Homo sapiens: one gene and its partner. The protein of the gene in region 2 interacts with the protein of the main gene of each other region in a pairwise test. Each region holds a gene or a part of one and is shown on either strand. Other genes may lie near its edges.

Evidence for each region.
Region 1: the proteins of YME1L1 (region 2) and BCL11A interact in a two-hybrid assay, tested with the Homo sapiens proteins (one large-scale study listed by BioGRID and IntAct).

The regions. Positions count from the first base shown.
Region 1 is NC_000002.12:60,466,386-60,470,222, forward strand, and holds part of BCL11A (BCL11 transcription factor A), read right to left. Parts: intron 2,449-3,837; coding exon 2,347-2,448; intron 1-2,346. UniProt on the Homo sapiens protein: Transcription factor. Associated with the BAF SWI/SNF chromatin remodeling complex. Binds to the 5'-TGACCA-3' sequence motif in regulatory regions of target genes, including a distal promoter of the HBG1 hemoglobin subunit gamma-1 gene.
Region 2 is NC_000010.11:27,144,312-27,148,148, forward strand, and holds part of YME1L1 (ATP-dependent zinc metalloprotease YME1L1), read right to left. Parts: intron 3,358-3,837; coding exon of another isoform or gene 3,187-3,357; intron 1,280-3,186; coding exon 1,117-1,279; intron 1-1,116. UniProt on the Homo sapiens protein: ATP-dependent metalloprotease that catalyzes the degradation of folded and unfolded proteins with a suitable degron sequence in the mitochondrial intermembrane region.

The DNA of each region.
Region 1 (3,837 bases), on a different chromosome or scaffold from region 2:
AGAGCTCTCCCCACCCAGCCAGCATGCAGGGACTAGAAACCGTGAGCCCAACCTCCTAAACCTTCTGCAATCTGTGACCTAACCCAGGCTTAGGCCCAGCTTGGGGGAAGGGAGCAGATGAGGTGCTTTTAACCCCTGAACCACCCAGCCCTCAGGACCTGAGGGCTTATGAAATTCACACAATAACTCTTTGTTACCTAGGATTACCTAGGAGTTAACAAAAATAAACAACTGGCTTTGAATCTGGTCTCAGGGTGCATGCCCTGCTCTTCAGATACCATTTACAAGATGGGTAAGTGTCATCTCCCTCCCATCTAAAAACAGTCCCCCTTAGAGCCTTAACTCTGGCATCTTGCTCTTTGTTATTCTCTCTCCATGACCTTTTTCCTTTTCTTTTTTTTTCTTTCCACAGCAGGTTATTTTTCATTTACTTTCAAATAAAAATTAGATGTCACACTTCTTTTCTTCTTGAACCTGCTTTTTTGTGTTTAGGGTGGAATCACTGCCCACCCCCTAACCTTTTAGCCATGCATGATTCATACCATGTGTTCCTACACAGAGAAGCAAACTGTATTATTTTCTAAAACAGTATCTTTCAGAAAACATTTGTATAAATGGACAAATTTAAGTTTCATAAAATGGTCCCTACTATAAAAGCTCACTTGAACAAGTAAATGGTGGTGGCAGTGGTGGTGGTGGTGGTGGTGGTGATGATGGTGGTGGTAGTGGTGGTGGTGGTGGTGATGGTGGTGTTGGTGGTGATGGTGGTGGTGGTGGTGGTGATGGTGGTGGTGGTGGTGGTGATGGTGGTGGTGATGGCGGTGATGGTACTGGTGATGGTGGTGGTGGTAGTGATGGTGGTGGTAATGGTGGTGGTGGTGATGGTGGTGGTGGTGGTAGTGATGGTGGTGGTAATGGTGGTGGTGGTGATGGTGGTGGTGGTGGTAGTGATGGTGGTGGTAATGGTGGTGGTGGTGATGGTGGTGATGATGGTGATGGTACTGGTGGTGATGGTGATGGTGATGGTACTGGTGATGGTGGTGGTGGTAGTGATGGTGGTGGTAATGGTGGTGGTGGTGATGGTGGTGGTAATGGTGGTGGTGGTGATGGTGGTGATGATGGTGATGGTACTGGTGGTGATGGTGATGGTGATGGTACTGGTGATGGTGGTGGTGGTAGTGATGGTGGTGGTAATGGTGGTGGTGGTGATGGTGGTGGTGGTGGTAGTGATGGTGGTGGTAATGGTGGTGGTGGTGATGGTGGTGATGATGGTGATGGTACTGGTGGTGATGGTGATGGTGGTGGTGGTGGTGATGGTACTGGTGGTGATGGTACTGGTGGTGATGGTGGTGGTGGTAGTGATGGTGGTGGTAATGGTGGTGGTGGAGATGGTGGTGTTGATGGTGATGGTACTGGTGGTGATGGTACTGGTGGTGATGGTGATGGTGGTGGTGGTGGTGATGCTACTGGTGGTGATGGTACTGGTGGTGATGGTGGTGGTGGTAGTGATGGTGGTGGTAATGGTGGTGGTGGTGGTGGTGGTAGTGATGGTGGTGGTGGTGATGGTACTGGTGGTGATGGTGGTGGTGGTAGTGATGGTGGTGGTAATGGTGGTGGTGGTGATGGTGGTGGTGGTGGTAGTGGTGGTGATGGTGGTGATGGTACTGGTGGTGATGGTGGTGGTGGTAGTGATGGTGGTGGTTGTGGTGGTGGTGGTGATGGTGGCAGTGGTGGTTGTGGTGGTGGTGGTGATGGTGGTGGTGGTGGTGGTGATAGTAGAGCCTTCACATTTTAACTACAATGATGTGCATTTTTCTCTAAAACCAGGAGAAAAATTAGTCAAAATTATGTGTGGGCATGAATATACAACATATACTATGTTCAAATACACATGTAAATACATAAGGAATATGCATTGGAATAACTCTGGAATAACCCTAAACTGACTCCTTTTGATTCTGGCCTTGGCTAAAGATGTGTGCCATGGACTATACCCAAAGTCCTAAATGAGGCCACAGGAGTGAATGTCCAGTAATAAAATGGGCTCCAGAGGCACAGGCATCTTCAATCACTAGCCACGGAGCAAGACAAGACCCTGGGGAGAAGACCCACAGGGATGAGCTACTATCAGCTCCCAGCCTCCAGTGAGGAAAGAAAAAGGGGAGGGAAGAAGTCCCTCTGGGGCTGAGTGGAGTGGGGAGCGGCTGCCAAGTGAGTAATGGAATAATACATATGACAATCTATTTTGGAAGTAACTCCTTCAGTACTTAAAAAGTAAGGGCAATTTCCAGAAATTCTCATCTCTATACACATGGACATTTGTAGAAGAAATAAGGCTCAACTTACAAATACCCTGCGGGGCATATTCTGCACTCATCCCAGGCGTGGGGATTAGAGCTCCATGTGCAGAACGAGGGGAGGAGAGGCCCCTCCAGTGCAGAAGTTTATCTGTGAAAGAAACCCAAAATCAAGCACTACAGCTACAAACAACGTGCATCATAAACCACAGGATATCACATTTCAATTCCATTAAAATAGATTACAACATCATTACAACAGCCTTGCAGATAGTTAACAGGCCCAAGGCCTGAAACAAAAGAAGAGTGGTGAGTTATTTCCCAGAGTTTCTGTTTTGTTTTCAATTTCGGTCTTTTTGACAAAAGTGAAAGGGTTTGTTTTAGGAAAGGGGAGAGGTGGTCTTTGGTTCATTTGCTTATTTATTTGTTGTTGTTTGATTATTGTCTTGTGGAAAGAAGATGTGTAAGCAGCAAGGGGAAAACTGGTAATATTGTGGGTAGCCTGGAAACATGGGGGGATTTTATCTGCAAGGCTGGTTTACATGCATACATTAACTTTACTTTATAGACAAACCCAAGCAAAAAGCAAAATGCTGATAGGAAATGAGTAGATTTGTGAATCGTTTTTTATGGGACAGAGTCCCACTTTGCTTTCTCTGTCCCTCTGCCCCCCTCTTCCCATGCTATATTTATGATAGCGCCTTCAGTGATAGGGGAAACCTGGGCATTTCTGGACTGAGCTGGGCCATACTCTAGAATCCTGTCAACTGGAAACCTTACACAGATGTGGCTTCTCACAATACAAAGCAATGGAAGATAAAGATTAGACTTCTGGGGTCCAAATAACTTTGACCATTAAATGACAAGGAAAGAACCAGCATTCCAATAATGCCAGCACCCAGAAACCCTGACCCATCTTCACCATTTTACTGCACTTTGTTGTACTCTGGTGAAGACAAGTGACTTCTCACACTAATAAAATGAATCTAATAGTCAATGAAACATTTGTAGCACTGAGATTTTTTTGAGAAGAGGAAAATTTGGTTTGTGCAATCTGGGGATTTTACGGTTTATGTGGTAAGTGCCTAGCTTTTCCAAGTCCTCCTCTAGCTAACTAACCATGTAGCTGTCCATCTTGAGACAGACTGGAGGATAGATGGTGCAGGAGACGCTCTGTGTGTTCTAGAGGTTTGGAGTTCATGATGATTGGGGAGGGCGGGAGACAAGAAAAACAGACTTTGATGGTGAACAAACAGTATGTTTTCCATTAGCTTAATATTAAGAGCACTTAGAAGTGTTGTTGTTGTACTCTAGGATAGCAGGTCTCAAGTGTAAAATACATCCTGTTCTCCTTATATAGAGCACACTGCCAAGCACAGCCAAGGCAGTTGGGACAAGATTTCCTTTCGCAAGGAGCCTGGTGGGTAACGATGGTGTGCTGCTGAGAAGGCTCTTACACAGACAGCATAGGTCTGCTGTTACCAGGCCTGCAGAGGGAAGCCCTGGTGGAAGCACCACCTAGCCTGAGAACATCTACAGA
Region 2 (3,837 bases):
TCAAAACCATTTCATTTTTTCCTCACACTTACGGTTTTTTATGCCCTTACACTGAAATAAAGGCAAAGGAAGGGTCAAGAATTAATGAATTAAGTTTATGCAAAGGACAGCTTCAAATCAAACCTTCATTATAAACTAGTCAAACCTGCTATTTTGTTCCTGGATTTTTATGGCCTGTTTAAGTGCCATCCAAAGAAAAACTCATAAAGTTGACATCCCTTTTCAGACTAGTATGAACCCACTTATTATACTACCATACTGTTATGAGATTCAAGTAAAAAAAAATGTAGACATTCCACAAAAGGGATAACAACTGTTTTTTTAATCAATGTATTCTCAAAGATTAAGTATGTTTCCTGGAATTAAATGTGTGTCACCTAAAATTAAAACAAACAACGCCCCCCCATTCTGCTAAATGCAATGTGGTATGCTGGATCAGATCCTGGAAAAGAAAAAGGACACTTGCAGAGAACTAGTGATTTGGTGAAAACAAATTTTGTTGAAATTCAAATAGTCTGTAGTTTAGTTAAAAATAAGGTACCAATGTTAGGCCTGCACGGTGGCTCACGCCTATAATCCCAGCACTTTGGGAGGCTGAGGAGGGTGGATCACGAGGTCAGGAGATCAAGATCATCCTGGCTAACACGGTGAAACCCCATCTCTACTAAAAATACAAAAAATTAGCCGGGCGTGGTGGCGGGCGCCTGTAGTCCCAGCTACTTGGGAGGCCGAGGCAAGAGAATGGTGTGAACCCGGGAGGCGGAGCTTGCAGTGAGCGGAGATTGTGCCACTGCACTCCAGCCTGGCTGACAGAAGGAGACTCCGTCTCAAAAAAAAAATTATTGTACCAATGTTAATTTCCTAGTTTTAACAAATGTAACATGATTATGTAAGATGCCAAAATTAGTGGAAGCAAAATTCTGTACTATCTTTGCAACTTTCCTGTAAATCTGGTACTATTTCAATATGAAAAATTGCAAAAAAAAAAACAAAAAAAAAACACTTCAGGAAAGAACCCAGCCCACAATAAACGCTACTGTGAAAGCTAAGAAATGGTATCTATAATTATTAATAGTGCTAAAATATTTAATTGGAACAAAAAACACATTAACATACCATATTTATTTTCAAAGAAGGATTGTGCAGAGACATGGGATGTATGCCAATGGGAAGAAATGTTTTTGCCTTTACAAAATCCAGGAAGTAGATTTTCTACCAGCTGATCAATCTGTCCAATTTTTAGTTCAGATAATCCAAGGTCCCTTAAGTTAAGTGAAGGCTGTAAAAGATTGGGTCAACCAGGTATGCATTAATATTATCAAGATATTTAACCTAAGGAGTACATATTATCAGTTAAAACAATCAGATTTTAAAAGTCTAACAAATATATTTCCTTTTTTTAATATTTAAAAATAAATTGATGCAAATATTTTCACAGTTCGTTTTACTGAGATCAGTCATATGAGGTTTGACATAGGTTAAAAAATTATATTCCTAATGGTATCCTTAAATAAAGAGATGACATTTCAGCATGAATGAGAAAAACTTTTTTTTTTTTTAAATCAAACCCAAACCACTACTGTCCTAAGCATTATGGTTCACAGAATCAAGTGAAATGTATGGCATTTTTTCCTTCTCTCCATACAAGGGTACTCTGATCAAGAGCTAGTCTATCAACTATTGATCAAGCATTTATAATGACAAGAGTGTAAGAGTAACTAACTGCAGGGTTACAAAGTATGTTATATAAGGTCCAGGGGATTTTCCCCAACAGTGTAGAACTGATTGGAGGATAATAGTAAGGTTCTTGAATTGGGGAAATTCCATTCAAATGATAATCCTCACCAGTCCATGGAGCTTTTAAGCCCCTAAGCAGCCATAAACAAAAGCCCACTTGACAAAGAAATGGTATGCTTGGTTACCATAGGACATCTCACTCCTCTGGCCTCATTGCTTAGATCCTTCCTTGAACTCAGAGGTTCTAAAGTTACCCATATCTTCTAATAAAGAAGAAAATTAAAGTCAAAACTGTGTGAAAATCAGGCAAAAAAGTCTAAAAATCACAAAAATGTGTGTATACCCACTTTTAAACAACAGGATAGGGATTATTTTCTTGTCCACATGAGCTGAAAGAGAGGCACTTAAAGGCAAGTAACAATTACATGTTACTCAAACCCAAAACAGCTAAGGTGGGAAGATCGTTTGAGGCCAGGAGTTTGAGACCAGCCTGAGCAACATGGTAAGACATCATCTTGATGAAAAATTTAAAAATTAGCTGGGCATGGTGGTATGCACCCGCAGCACCAGCTACTCAGGAGAAATGTTTGAGCCCAGGAGCTGGAGGTTGCAGTGAGCTATGACAGCATCACTGCACTTCAGCCTGGGCTACAAAGGGGAGACCCTGTCTCTAAAAATAAAGTTTTTTTTAAAAGAGGCATGGACACGGATTATATAGCTCTGGACTGATGTCTGGGAATACGGTACTTTTTAAATTAGCTATAACTCATATTCTTAGAATTCATTTTCTCAATACTAACATAACTATAAAATACACCTTATTTCCTAATAGTAAGGATCAAAGGCAGAGATCATGCCTTACTCATCTACGTATCCTAGCATACAACATGACAGCACATAGTAAAAGACAGTTAAAGGCATGATGAAATAAAATACTTAAAAGTACTTTTTAAGCTATTAAAAATGATCAAGGCGGCTTAGGGACGGGGGCAAACAAAAAGCCATCCAAGGGTCTGGAATATCTCAAAAAATTCAAGGAAAGAAAAAATTAAAGAGATAGGTTATGGCCAAACTGTGAAGAGCCATGTTTGAATTTAATTCTCTAAGTAACATGATTAGTTCTGTCTTATAGAAGAAAATGGAGAACTAAGGAAGATAGACTGGCCTAGCATGGTGGCTCGAGCCTGTAATCCCAACACTTTTGAGAGGCTGAGGTGGGAGGACTGCTTCAGGCCAGGAGTTCGAGATCAGCCTGGTGAAGAAAGCAAGACCCTGTCTTTACAAAAAATTTAAAAATGATAAAACAAACAAACAAAGAAACTAGACTGGATGAGAGAGAAGGCTGATGGAACAAGTGAAAGATGGCAAGAACCTGAACTAAGCCGTGACTAAGAACGATGGACAAAACAAATCATAGACAATAGGCATTTGGAGAAACCCGCAGTGTACAGGGATTGAGAGGGAGAAGGGTTCTGGACGGATGTGCCAGTTATCGGTTGTGTCCAAGCTCTTCTTCATCCTTTTTGCTGGCTCCATGAACATGGATCTGTACCCTTCGAATATTTTTCCTTTGCCAATTGAAACAATGTTAAGCTTCGTCAGGAAGTCACTGAACATACACTGTAGGAAGAGAGGTTTTGATTCCTGGTTGTGGTATGCTCATTTAGCAAGTTCCTGTCTGTAACACCCGTGGTTTCTATAGCATCTGGCTCCTGTCAATTGTGCAGTTTCACCAAACCCTGGCTCCTGGCGTGCACAATGGCCAGCAGGACCTAGCAGCTTCCCCTGGCACCACTCGTGTAACAGCTTCTCTAGTAGGACACATCCCCAGGAACAGCTTTTCCCAGTATCCTAGAGGGCAGACTTCCCAGATTTCTAGCACGTTACCCTGGCATGACATCACAGCAACTTTTCTACCATTCAGTGAGCCAAGGCCATGCCTTCGCCAACAATGTCAGGATCTCAGCCCTGGGGATGGAGAACTCTTCCTGACTCTATCTCAGCCCTAGAAGTATGAGCTGCTCCCTAAATCTGCTGGTCCTTTATTTTTTTAAGAGTTTTATTTACTTCTTAAATCCCTACCTATTCCACTTCCCTGTA